2 separate regions of the Homo sapiens genome follow, and region 1 is linked to region 2. Evidence: fine-mapped expression QTL. A gene starts in region 2. The other region holds a variant in brackets. All regions are shown on one strand. Distances are between the middles of the regions. Region 1 has its middle 37 kb from the start of CCDC149. Region 2 holds the start of CCDC149 (coiled-coil domain containing 149).

Region 1 (5,377 bases), 36 kb after region 2:
AGTGATATGGTTTGGCTGTGTCCCCACCCAAATCTCATCTCAAATTTTTGTTCCCATAATCCCCACATGTCATGGGAGGGACAGGGTGAGAGGTAATTTAGTCATGGGGGTGGTTACCCTCATGCTGTTCTCATGATAGTGAGTGAGTTCTCATGAGATCTGATGGTTTTATAAGGGGCTTTTCCTCTTTTTGCTTGCTGCCGCCATGTGAGGAAGGACATGTTTTCTTCCCCTTCTGCCATGACTGTAGGTTTCCTGAGGCTTCCCCAGCCATGCTGAACTGTGAGTCAATTAAACCTCTTTTCTTTATAAATTACCCAGTCTCAGGTATGTCTTTATTTGCAGTGTGAGAACGGACTAATACATGTAGAGAACTCCTCCCTCCTAACCTACAAAAAGTCACAGATGTCTATGTCAAACTGGACTCCCATGAAGTCCTCCCCACGTCTATCCTCCTCTTCCATGAAATCCAAGCCAGGGTTGCCTGAATCACCTCATCCTCAACAACATTTCTCAGAATAGGAAATATTCAAAATTTGCCACCACTCATCTTGTGGGCTTCATATAAAAAATACAAAATGCTACCTTTTAAAAATTAAAAAGCCAGTAAATTACCTTCCAAGATTCAATCTGAGTTTAGAAAATTCATTACAATGAAAAAAGAAGGAGGATTTTTTTTTTTATTGCAGATAGTTAGTGGCATTGATGGATTATGGCAGAGCCATCCGCAATATGGCCAAATAATTTCACTGGAGAGGATTTTATATAGCTACAGCTAAAATTCAATGAACTGATTCAGAAGACTCAGTATAAAATATAACAGTGACTTCGAGTGCCAAATCAATTTGGGGGCTTGAAGGGATAGGGAGAGCCTTCGTTCCCTCCCTGTTCATGGACGTTACTTTAACTGGAACTGTAAATTCACAGGCGTAGGAGTGGCAGGCAGTGGGCTACGGCAGGTGATTTAAGAAACCTATCCTGAAAAATCAGAAAGTGGTTGCAAATAGCTGTCCTTAGAGAAGCGTGTGACTCTGAAGTACATCCAAGAGAGAAAGTTCAAAGGATGTTCTCGAGGACAAATTAGGGATTTGCCATCAGGTGACAAGGGTTCTAGGTTTACAAATGGATCAACTTGAGTCCTTGTTTTCTACCTCAATCTCCACCCTTGTGAAATAAAAAGGTTGATGCAGAATAACGGCTTTCACAATGTTGGTTATCTTTGTCTTTTTAATAGTAGGAGGCTTTTTGCTCATGGATTCATCCTACTCTGCTGGATTTTCACTTTGCCTCTGCAGACCCATGCTCCAGCATTCTCACCCTGCTCTTGCTCCACAATGCTGAGGACTGCATTATTAAACTCCCTTGCCGGCCAGCTTCCACTCAGGTTTAGCCAGCAGGAGGTGCCCATAGAAGATTGGAGGATGAAATAAGATAGAGGGCAGGATGTTGACACCTACAACTCCCTCCCTCCCAGGCCACTGGTTGGCAGTGGCAGTGCTCCTGCCCAGTGTCCTCCTTCCACCATATCTCTCTTTTCCTCTCTCTGGGTTCCAGAATCATCCGTGATATGGTTTGGCTGTGTCCCCACCCAAATCTTGAATTGTAGTTCCCATAATTCCCACATATTATGGGAGGGACCTGGTGGGAGGTAATTGAATAATGAGGGTGGGTCTTTCTTGTGCTGTTCTTGTGATAGTGAATAAATCTCATGAGATCTGATGGTTTTATAAAGGGGAATTTCCCTGCACAAACTCTCTCTTTGCCATCCACTATGTAAGATGTACCTCTGATCTTCGTTCATCTTCCGCCATGATTTTGAGGCCTCCCCAGCCACGTGAAACTGTGAGTCAACTAAACCTCTTTCTTTTATAAATTACCCAGTCTCTGGTATGTCTTTATCAGCAGTGTGAAAACAGACTAATAGAATCCCCTAATCCTGCCCATTCAGACAAGGGTAGCAACGGCTGTTGTTAGCCTCCAGGGCTTCATCATGCCTTTGGGGTTTCCTGGAACACTGTCCATTCTGTTGGAAATAACCTCTTCATTAAACTCTTCTCAAGACCCCACAGAAATGTGGCATCTCTTTCCTGCTGGGACAGATGCACTCGGAGACTTCTTAGGTAAAACAGACCAGAGAGGCTCTGCCCTGAATGTAGCTGGGGCTTCCGTGCACACAGTATGCCCCACCCTCATGCGTTTACAGGGACCTGATCCTGTGCAGAAAGACACTTCCAGCTTCTGAGATTCCTTCCAAATTGTCAGCTGTAGAGAGGTAGTGGTGGCAGGGAGGGGGGGTGGTGGGGGGACTCCCTCATCTGTCATTATTCAAATATATTGAGCTCCTATATTTGTTTATTCACTCATTCAGCTAACACCAGTGGAGCACCTCTACTGACCCAGATGCTGTGCTAGGTTCTGAGGTTAAGGGGTAAATAAGATAGAATTCCTAGTCTCAAGGGGCTTACACACATTTGCAAACACACAAGCCAACTACGAAAACCTCAGAGCCAGAAAGAAAGGGCCCTGAGATATTTCTCATCCACAGCAGCACTGAGGCCAGGAAAGCAGGACTCGGGCTCTGTCAACCTGAGAGAAAACAGCAAGAACAGTGCATTGTGGAGTTAGGATCTAATTCCCTGCGTGGGAAGGAAGTGGCAGGCAGGAGAATAAGACCAGTGGGATCTTTCCCCAAGATGTTGTCAGGGATTCATCCGTGGACTCCCCGGGGCCTGTGACTAAGGTGGGTGGTTGCTTTAGGAACCTGCAGGTGCACAGAGGGGACAGCAGAGGTGGCCGTGAAGAGAAGGATGGCGACAGAGGTCATAGGTTATGCCAAGGATCAGAGAGTTTGGCTCATACCAGAGGCACATGGCT[G/A]AAACCATCTGTGTGTAACAGCCATCTCTGCAGGGGTCACCCCTGACCTGGAAACTCAAGAGAGAAATTGTTGTCCTGGTAGAAACTGGTAAGGACAGCCTTGACATTCCTCAGCCTCATGAGGTGGCAGAGAGAGTATGCCAGAGCCCCTGTCTATATCACAGTGAGAATGCAAAGGCTGTGAGCATGAACTCTGGAGCCAAACTGCCCAGGGCTGAATCCAGTCTTTGCCACTTGCTGCCAAGTAATACTATTTTTGTTTTCAGCCTTCTCATCTGTGAAGGGTGATTCTAATCCAACCTCATAGGTGGGTTGTGAAAATGTATTTAATTAGTATCTGCAAAGCACTTAGCACAGTGCCTGACACAGAGTAAGCGCAATGCAAATGTTAGTTGTTATTACTCAACATCACTTTACTATTTTCATTTCAGTATGGACCCCAAATCGAGTGGACTCGGGGGTGGGAATATGGCTGCTGGGAATGAGCAGAACATTGGAAGGGGAGTGGAGAATCCCAGCCTTTGGAGTAAGACAAAGATTTAAATCTAAACCCTGCCATGAGCCAGCTCCATAATCTTGGCAAGCACTTAGACCTTCTCCAATCCTCAGTGTTCTCATCTATGAAATGGGGATAATTATCGTACTTACCCCTTAGGGTGGCAGTGGAGGGTAATAACAAGTTCCTTTATTTTTCATTTACTCATTCATTCACGTATTCAATAAACACATTTTTTCCCCACCATACAAGCTATGTTTACTAAGGAAACAAACTTCTTTCCCAATTCAGGGGTCTGGGGCCTGTGTAGCCACCATTCAGAACCTCTAATAAGCAGGACCTGGCCAACGTGGCCACAGGAAGTTGACTTAATGAGAATTAAGTCTTCTCATGTCTTGACTGGCTGCTCCCTGTGTTCCTCAAATCTAGCATTTGGGAAACAGATTCCCTCAACATCATAGCTCAGCATCTATGTATCTTTGGGGACCCCTTTAGGTTAAAAAGCAGGTGTTGTCAAGCTGGGGGAGTGGGGAAGGGGGCCTCAGGCAGGGATACACAGGAAATCGCTACCTGCAGTGGGTGATCACCACATGTGTGGGTTCCGTGGGTGCCCAGGCTGTCACCCGGGCTGCAGGCAGCAAGTGACAGATCCCATGCATGCCTCCTCATTTAAATTCATTCCACAGTCCAGATCTGCCTACACCCAAGGAGCCTTCAGGGCAAGCTGCCCCGAATGTTTCCATTCAGAATCATGCATCCCCTCTCATTTTTGGAAGCTTTTAAACTTCAGGGTGGACAGCGTGGCCCTTGGGAATGTGCTTTCATGCATTAGGAGTCGATTTTAAACAGCAAATATGCCATAGTCAGTCATAGAGGTAAATAATAATACAACTTCAAAAGAGCAGAGCACAAAAGAGAGGCTATTATTAATGGGAAAAATAATTTTAAAGTCATATTAAAAAGCCTCAAGTCTAGTGGAAAAAGCCAGGAAATGGGAACAAAATTAGCATTATTATAGCTTTTCATGGTAACTTACTCTGGGTTTTTCTGGTGGCTTAAAAAAAGCAGAAAAGAAGGGAAAAGCTGACTGATAACAATTTATCCGACCAAATACATTTCCCATCCCAAATGCACCTGTGATAGTGACTGTATTTAAATTGTTTCCTTTTTATATCTGTTTTGTGGCCATTTATACCTCACAGTGTTATTAGAGAAAGCAGCATTTTGTGTGGAATGGTAAACAGTAAAGCTCTTTGAGGCCTTTCAGAAAGAAGTGCAATTCGAGGGGCAGGAATTATTATTATTAATTTGCATGTTAATAATCCAAATCTTCACTAAAGCCCACACTGCAGATGCACCCTCTGAAACTCCGCAGAGGTAAGTGCTGTATATTAATGGGGCACCTTTGGTCTTAGAAGAAAAGGAGTTTCTGTGAAGGACGAGACCTTTTCCTTTCTCAATTTTGAAAGGAGAGTCCTCTTTTTGTTGGGTGCTCATTGCCTTTGCTTCAGTTAAACTGTTCCCTTCTCAGATCATCCTCTTTCTCATCATTTCACATAAAGTCCCCAACAATTTCTCTCAATTAGGCTTTAGGGCACTCACAACCCCACTCCTCTGGAAGCATGGTGAAGCATACGTGTACACATCTGTGTGCAGTGTGTGCTAACGTGCACGCCTCAAACCTTCGGCTTTGTTTATACATATGTGTATTCTATTATTAATGGTTTGGAGCCATTTCAGTTCTGAAGTAGGCGAAATTTAAGTTACTTTTTAAAACATATTTTTTGGCTGGGTAAGGTGGCTCATCCCTGTAATCCCAGCATTTTGGGATGCCAAGGCAGGAGGATCACTTGAGGTCGGGAGTTCAAGACCAGTCTGGCCAACATGGTGAAACCCCATCTCTACTAAAAATACAACAATTATCCAGGCATGGTTGCAGGTGCCTGTAATCCCAGCTATTCAGGAGTCTGAGACAGGAGAATTGCTTGAACCAGGGGGCTGGGCAGA
Region 2 (5,377 bases):
CAAGTTCCTTAGCCTGTCTGAGCCACTGTTTCCTTATCTGTAAAATAAGAAAGAATTCCTACCTTATGTCATTGTGAATATGAGGCCATGTAAAATGCTTAATATGAAGGATGCACTCAAAAAATAGTCATTAGTTATTATTAAGGTGGGAAGTAAGTTAGACCCATTTTCACCTCCCCCATGGCCCCTGGCTACGTGCCCACCTCATGTTTGTGAAGTTAAGGAGGTATTACTCTGGAGAAACTCTGCTGGGATGGGCAGGAAAACTCCTGAAGGACCTACTTCAGGATTCACTGACTTATTCAACAAGCATTTTTCGAGCACCTGCTGCATACAGAGCTCTGTGTATAGGCCCTGGAATAAAGAACCAAACAAAGCACACGGCCTAGTGAGGAAGCCTATTGTTACAATAATGTGGTCAGGGCAAGGTGAAGGTTAAGCCCAGCCAACTGAGGGGCACCCCATGCCATTTAGCACTTGAAGCCTTTCCATCCTTTAGTTCACTCTCACTGTCTACGGTATGACCTTCCTCCCAGACTATATCATGAAACCCCCAGGAGTTCTTTGAGGGTAGGGGAGTTCTTTGTCTTATTCACCACTGAATCCCAAGCACCTCACAATGTACTGACTCCTAACAGGCACCTGATATGCAATTGTTGGAGTAGTGAAGATTCTGCTGCTATTTAAGGGCCTAACACTGGACTTCTAAGGAGAACTACCTCCAGCCTCCTTGACTACTAAGTATGATTCTTGATGGGACCAGAAACAAGGTCCCCAGAGGATCTGCCCCTTAACATAAAGCCTGACAGTTTGAGAAGATGGAGCCAGGCTGCAATACAATGGATCATAACACCAGACAGTTAGGAGAGCTTTCAACTACTAGACCAATGCTGAGCAAACTAAACTAGGGCAGGAGCTACCGCATGTCATTCCTCTTCAGAAACACAACGCTCTGCACACACTGGGCATGAAGCACTATTATCAGACTGACCTGGAGACCCAGAAAACGATGAAAGGAGTGAGGGAGTAGAGGGTTTCCCTTCCCATAACCCACAAGGAAAGGAAAAGAGCAAACCGATACACTCTGCATTGTGTGCACAGGATTAAAGAAAAGGAAGCCCCAAGTTGGCCTTGGCTGGAGCTTGGTTCTCAGAAGGGAGAAATTCCCCGGCATGGGTAAGTAACACCAGGAATTGCCCCCACAAATGGTGGCAAACCAGGGCAACTTACCTGGTTGCCTCCAGGTGAGAGGGAGAAATCCGCATTCCCTCTCACCTGGAGAGGCCGGCAGCTTCTCCCGGCAGGCCGGCAAACTCTTAGGGGGAACTGAAGAGCAAACAGCATAGGATCCTGAAAGTGGACCCCCAGGGTATGTTTATGACAAAAGAGTCGCAGGGCAGGGGGACACGGTGTTCTGTGCTTCCACAAATCGAATCACTTCTGCACCTGTGTTTCACTTTTTCGATAAATGCCCCTCCCCACCTTACACATGGTAGGCCTGCAGTAAACACGTGTTGATTGAATTGAGCAAGTGAATGAGTGAACGGCTGCAGCGGACCCCCGAACTCCCCCAACTCGAACCACCGCCGCAGGTAATTCCACCTGGCCCAGGTTCCACCCCAGGGCTCGGATTCTCCCCCATGGCACCACCTTCCCGTTTCAGTCCCAGGCGTCCAATTGTTTGGCTCCACAACAGTGGCGAGCGGGCAGGCAGGTGGGGCTTGGCACCTTCTGCTCCCGGATCCCAGGGCTTCAGCCTCCAATCCAGGGCCAACCCCTGCCTTGGGGGGAAGGCCCCTCCCCAAAGGCTGACACCAGATGGCGCGGAAGAAAGTGGCGCCCGCGCAGACCCGAAAGTGCAGGAGGAGCGGCGCACCTGGCGGGGTCGCGCGGGTGCGGCAGCCGCGGCCACTTGGAGTGCGCGCCCCCCTCTCGTCCCTCCCAGCTCGGCCTCTCTGGGGGCGCGGGCCCGGGGCTGGCGGCCGCTCGGCCCGGCCCATCCCGCCTGGCCGGCGCCGCGGCCTCACCTCGCTCACCAGCCCCTGCCAGTCGCTCTCAGTCCGGTCGCCGTTCATGGCCTCCTCCTCCATGCGCTGGCCGGCCTCCTGGACCCCCGCCGCCTCCTCCTCCTCGCGACGTCGCGTCGCCGCCGCCGCCCGGGCCCCGCGCGGCCCCGAGAGGGCCCGGCGCCTCCGAGCCGCTGCGCCGCCGCCTCTCGCGGCCGCCAGCGCTGTTGACTCCACGTCAGCCTCCGCCGGAGGGAAAGGGAGGAGGGGCGCGGCCGCCGGGGCCGCAGACACAGCCCGGGCCGCAGCCGAGCCCCGCCGGGCCCGCCCCGCGCCCTCAGCCCCGCGACCTCGGGCTCCGCGCCTCCTGCCCGGCCTCTAGGCAAGGGGAAGCCAGGGTCTCAGCCTACAGGTCACTCCGGACCCCTCAGCGCTCTCCGCGCGGGAGGCGGGCCCCACGGGCAGGCCTGTGTCCCCCGCAAGAAGCAAATCCCCAAATCCAGTCCTTCTCCGACCACCATCACGACTCCCACGCCTAGAATGCAAGCTCCCCGAGGGCAGGGGTTTCCTTGGTTCGCAGATGTGCCTTTGGCAAGATCCTGGCCCATAGGAGATGCTCTACATATATTTATTGGACGAATATTTGTTGAACGCAAGAATGAATGAACCACGTTTTATTATATACTTAGCATTGTTTTTTAAACTATTAGTGCTTGCTTATATATTTTTTAACGTATCATTTGTCATTAATAGAAAGCAAATGTAAAAATTGAAAATAAAGCATTATTCAATTCTAAATAGGGCCAAAAACTCTGAGGGAGATGGTTAGCATGGGTTGAGAGAGGTGTCAAAGACAAATTGGCACTGGTGGCATTCCATGGCTCATGCCTGTAATCCCAGCACCTTGGGAGGCTGAGGCAGGAGGATCCCTTGAGGACAGGAGTTCAAGAGCAGCCTCGGCCACAAAGTGACACACCCCCTCTTTACAAAAAATAAAATAATTAGCAAAAGGGGAAGGCATTGGCATTAAGCTGAGACTTCTCCTAAGAGGAAAGACTGAAAGAGAATGACAGAGGGAAGGTGAATCACACACATAAGTCAATCGTATTCAAGGTGCTGTTCCTGTGACACCTAAAATCCCCTCTTGGACCACTATCAATAGTGAGCCCTCTGTACTCGCAGAAACGCTGTGTGTGGAGATGAGCAAGTAGGTTGAGAAGTTGTGAACCCATTGTACAGTTGTGGAAGCATCATTACCAACATTTATTTATAATTTTTAGCCCCTGTTGATCCTGGATCAACCCTGTGAAATGGATGTTATCCTCATTTATTAGATGGGGAAACTGAGGCCTGAAACGTGGAGAAACAGGGACTCAACTAGGACTTCTGGCTCTAGCATCTTGGAAATCTAAGAATGAAGTATCACCTTGAAAGTTTGTTCTTGGCCTTGTTTTGCACATGATAGACTGTTTGCAAAATGGCAGCAATCATTCCCCTTCTTTGTCCCTTGCCCTGCCACTGTCTCTTTCACTCTGTGCTCAGTCATGTAACTTGCTTTGACCAAAGCAACGTTTGTACATGTGTTACCAGAAAAAAAAAAAAAAAAAAAGAAAAAAAAAGGCTTTTAAAGCAATTGTGCATTAGGATTTAACTCTTGCTTCTGCTCTTGGAAACCATGTAAATAAGCTCCGAATAGCTTGCTGGTTAAGGTAGGATTCCCAACCAACAGTCAACCATCACCAGATGTGTGAGTGAGGCCATTGCCTGCCGCCCCCTCCACGCCCCCCCACCCCCACCCGCACAGCTGATGACAAGCACATGAGTGAGCCCAGCTGAGACCAGCCGAAGAACCATCCAGCTGAGCCTTGCTCAACTAGCTGACTCACAGCATCACATACTAAATAAGTAGTTGTAGTTTAAGCCACTAAGTTTTAGGGCGATTTGCTAGGTATCAACAGGTAACTGAAATGGATGGTGACACAACTGATGAAGGGCCTGAATGGCTTGAACTCTCCCTGGCAGCCCTTCAAAAAGCAATAGTCCCTGGCATCATAATCTAAAGAAAATTTTACAACGGACTGGCTGGCCAGGAGCTAAGAAAAGGAACCAGTATACTAGTCAGCACATTGGTTTTCTGCCTGTTGTATACAACTGCAGCACTCATCCTGGGGAAGTTCAATAACATTGCACACCATGGTCCCTGTCCTAGGGGGCTTGCAAACTAAGGTGCTAGAGAACAGCAGAAAAAAAGGTGGGGCTAGAATGCAGCTAAAGCTTCTGGTCTTCTGACCATTCTGGGCTGCCTAACTCATTATCTTTTTAATCTAAGGAGCTAGAAAGAAGGTCATCCTTGAGCTGAATGTCTAGAGTTAATTAACTCAGTGCCAAGCACTTGTTCCTAAGCCTGACGTCTCATGCCTAAAAAGCAAGGTACTGTCTGCCAATATATTGCCCTCTGGCAAACCATCTGTTTTCATCCTGACCTGTGGATAAATAGACTGTAGGAAAAGTGGGCAGAACTTGGTCCATCTGCCTTTCAAGCCTCCTTGTCTGCACCTTGCTCTCTGCCTGCATTCAGGTGGGAAAGCCCATTCCAGTTTCCACAGTTAGCTGAGCCCTTCATGATATACCACTGCTCCTTTGGCGCCCTCACTGGTATTTCAGGCAGCAGGACAGACAATCAATGAGCGTTGGGAGCCAAGAAATCTTCGCATTCCAGACTATGTGCCTTTAAGACCACTCTCCCTGTGACTCCATTTCCCCTATTTGCTTTCCTTCTCCGAAATAAGTCAGACAGTTATTACGGTATTTAAAAATAAAGCTGGGGAGCAAAATCAAAGTGTGGCAAGCCTCTACCCTCCCCAGCATGTGGGGAGACTTTCAACTCGGTTGAAACAGCATCTCTAGCTGCCTGGGTTTTCCTTAGAGGTTTCATGCCCCAAGTGCCAGCTCAAACCTGCTTCGCTTGTGAGATGTGATGAAATCACAAACCAAGGCAATGTAGCTGCAAGCAATTCTTTTTTATCTCTTTTCATTTATGTAGCCTGACATTGAGTAATAATAATAATTAAATGCAGTTTAAGCTTTTAGGCACCTATACCAGAAGGCCTCTAGACACCTCATCAACAGCAGCCCAGACTGACAAAAAAGAGAGCTAATTATATTGTGGTTAACTTTTTTCAAAGAAGAAATAAACCCATACACCAACTATCTTTATCCCTGATAAAAGCAGTACATTAAATGTCCCATCCGACAGTCCATTTGCACAGGATCATTTTAAAACCTGGTGCCCTTGTCTTAAATGTGCCACCCTGTTACAAAGTATTGAGACGTTTGCTTTAGCCTCTATTTTCACATCCCCTTGGCTTTCT

What was found.
Region 1: its variant is fine-mapped to the expression of CCDC149 in whole blood (INTERVAL, PIP 0.92).

The regions. Positions count from the first base shown.
Region 1 is chr4:24,947,154-24,952,530 of GRCh38, forward strand. It overlaps a transcript of CCDC149 not described here. Among named protein-coding and RNA genes, the nearest start is that of CCDC149, 37 kb to the left of the region's middle. The variant G/A (reference allele first, on the strand shown) is at 2,875.
Region 2 is chr4:24,910,790-24,916,166 of GRCh38, forward strand. It overlaps CCDC149 (coiled-coil domain containing 149), which reads right to left and starts at 2,253. Exons shown (of 13, transcript NM_001395273.1): 1 at 2,028-2,253. The coding sequence starts at 2,075.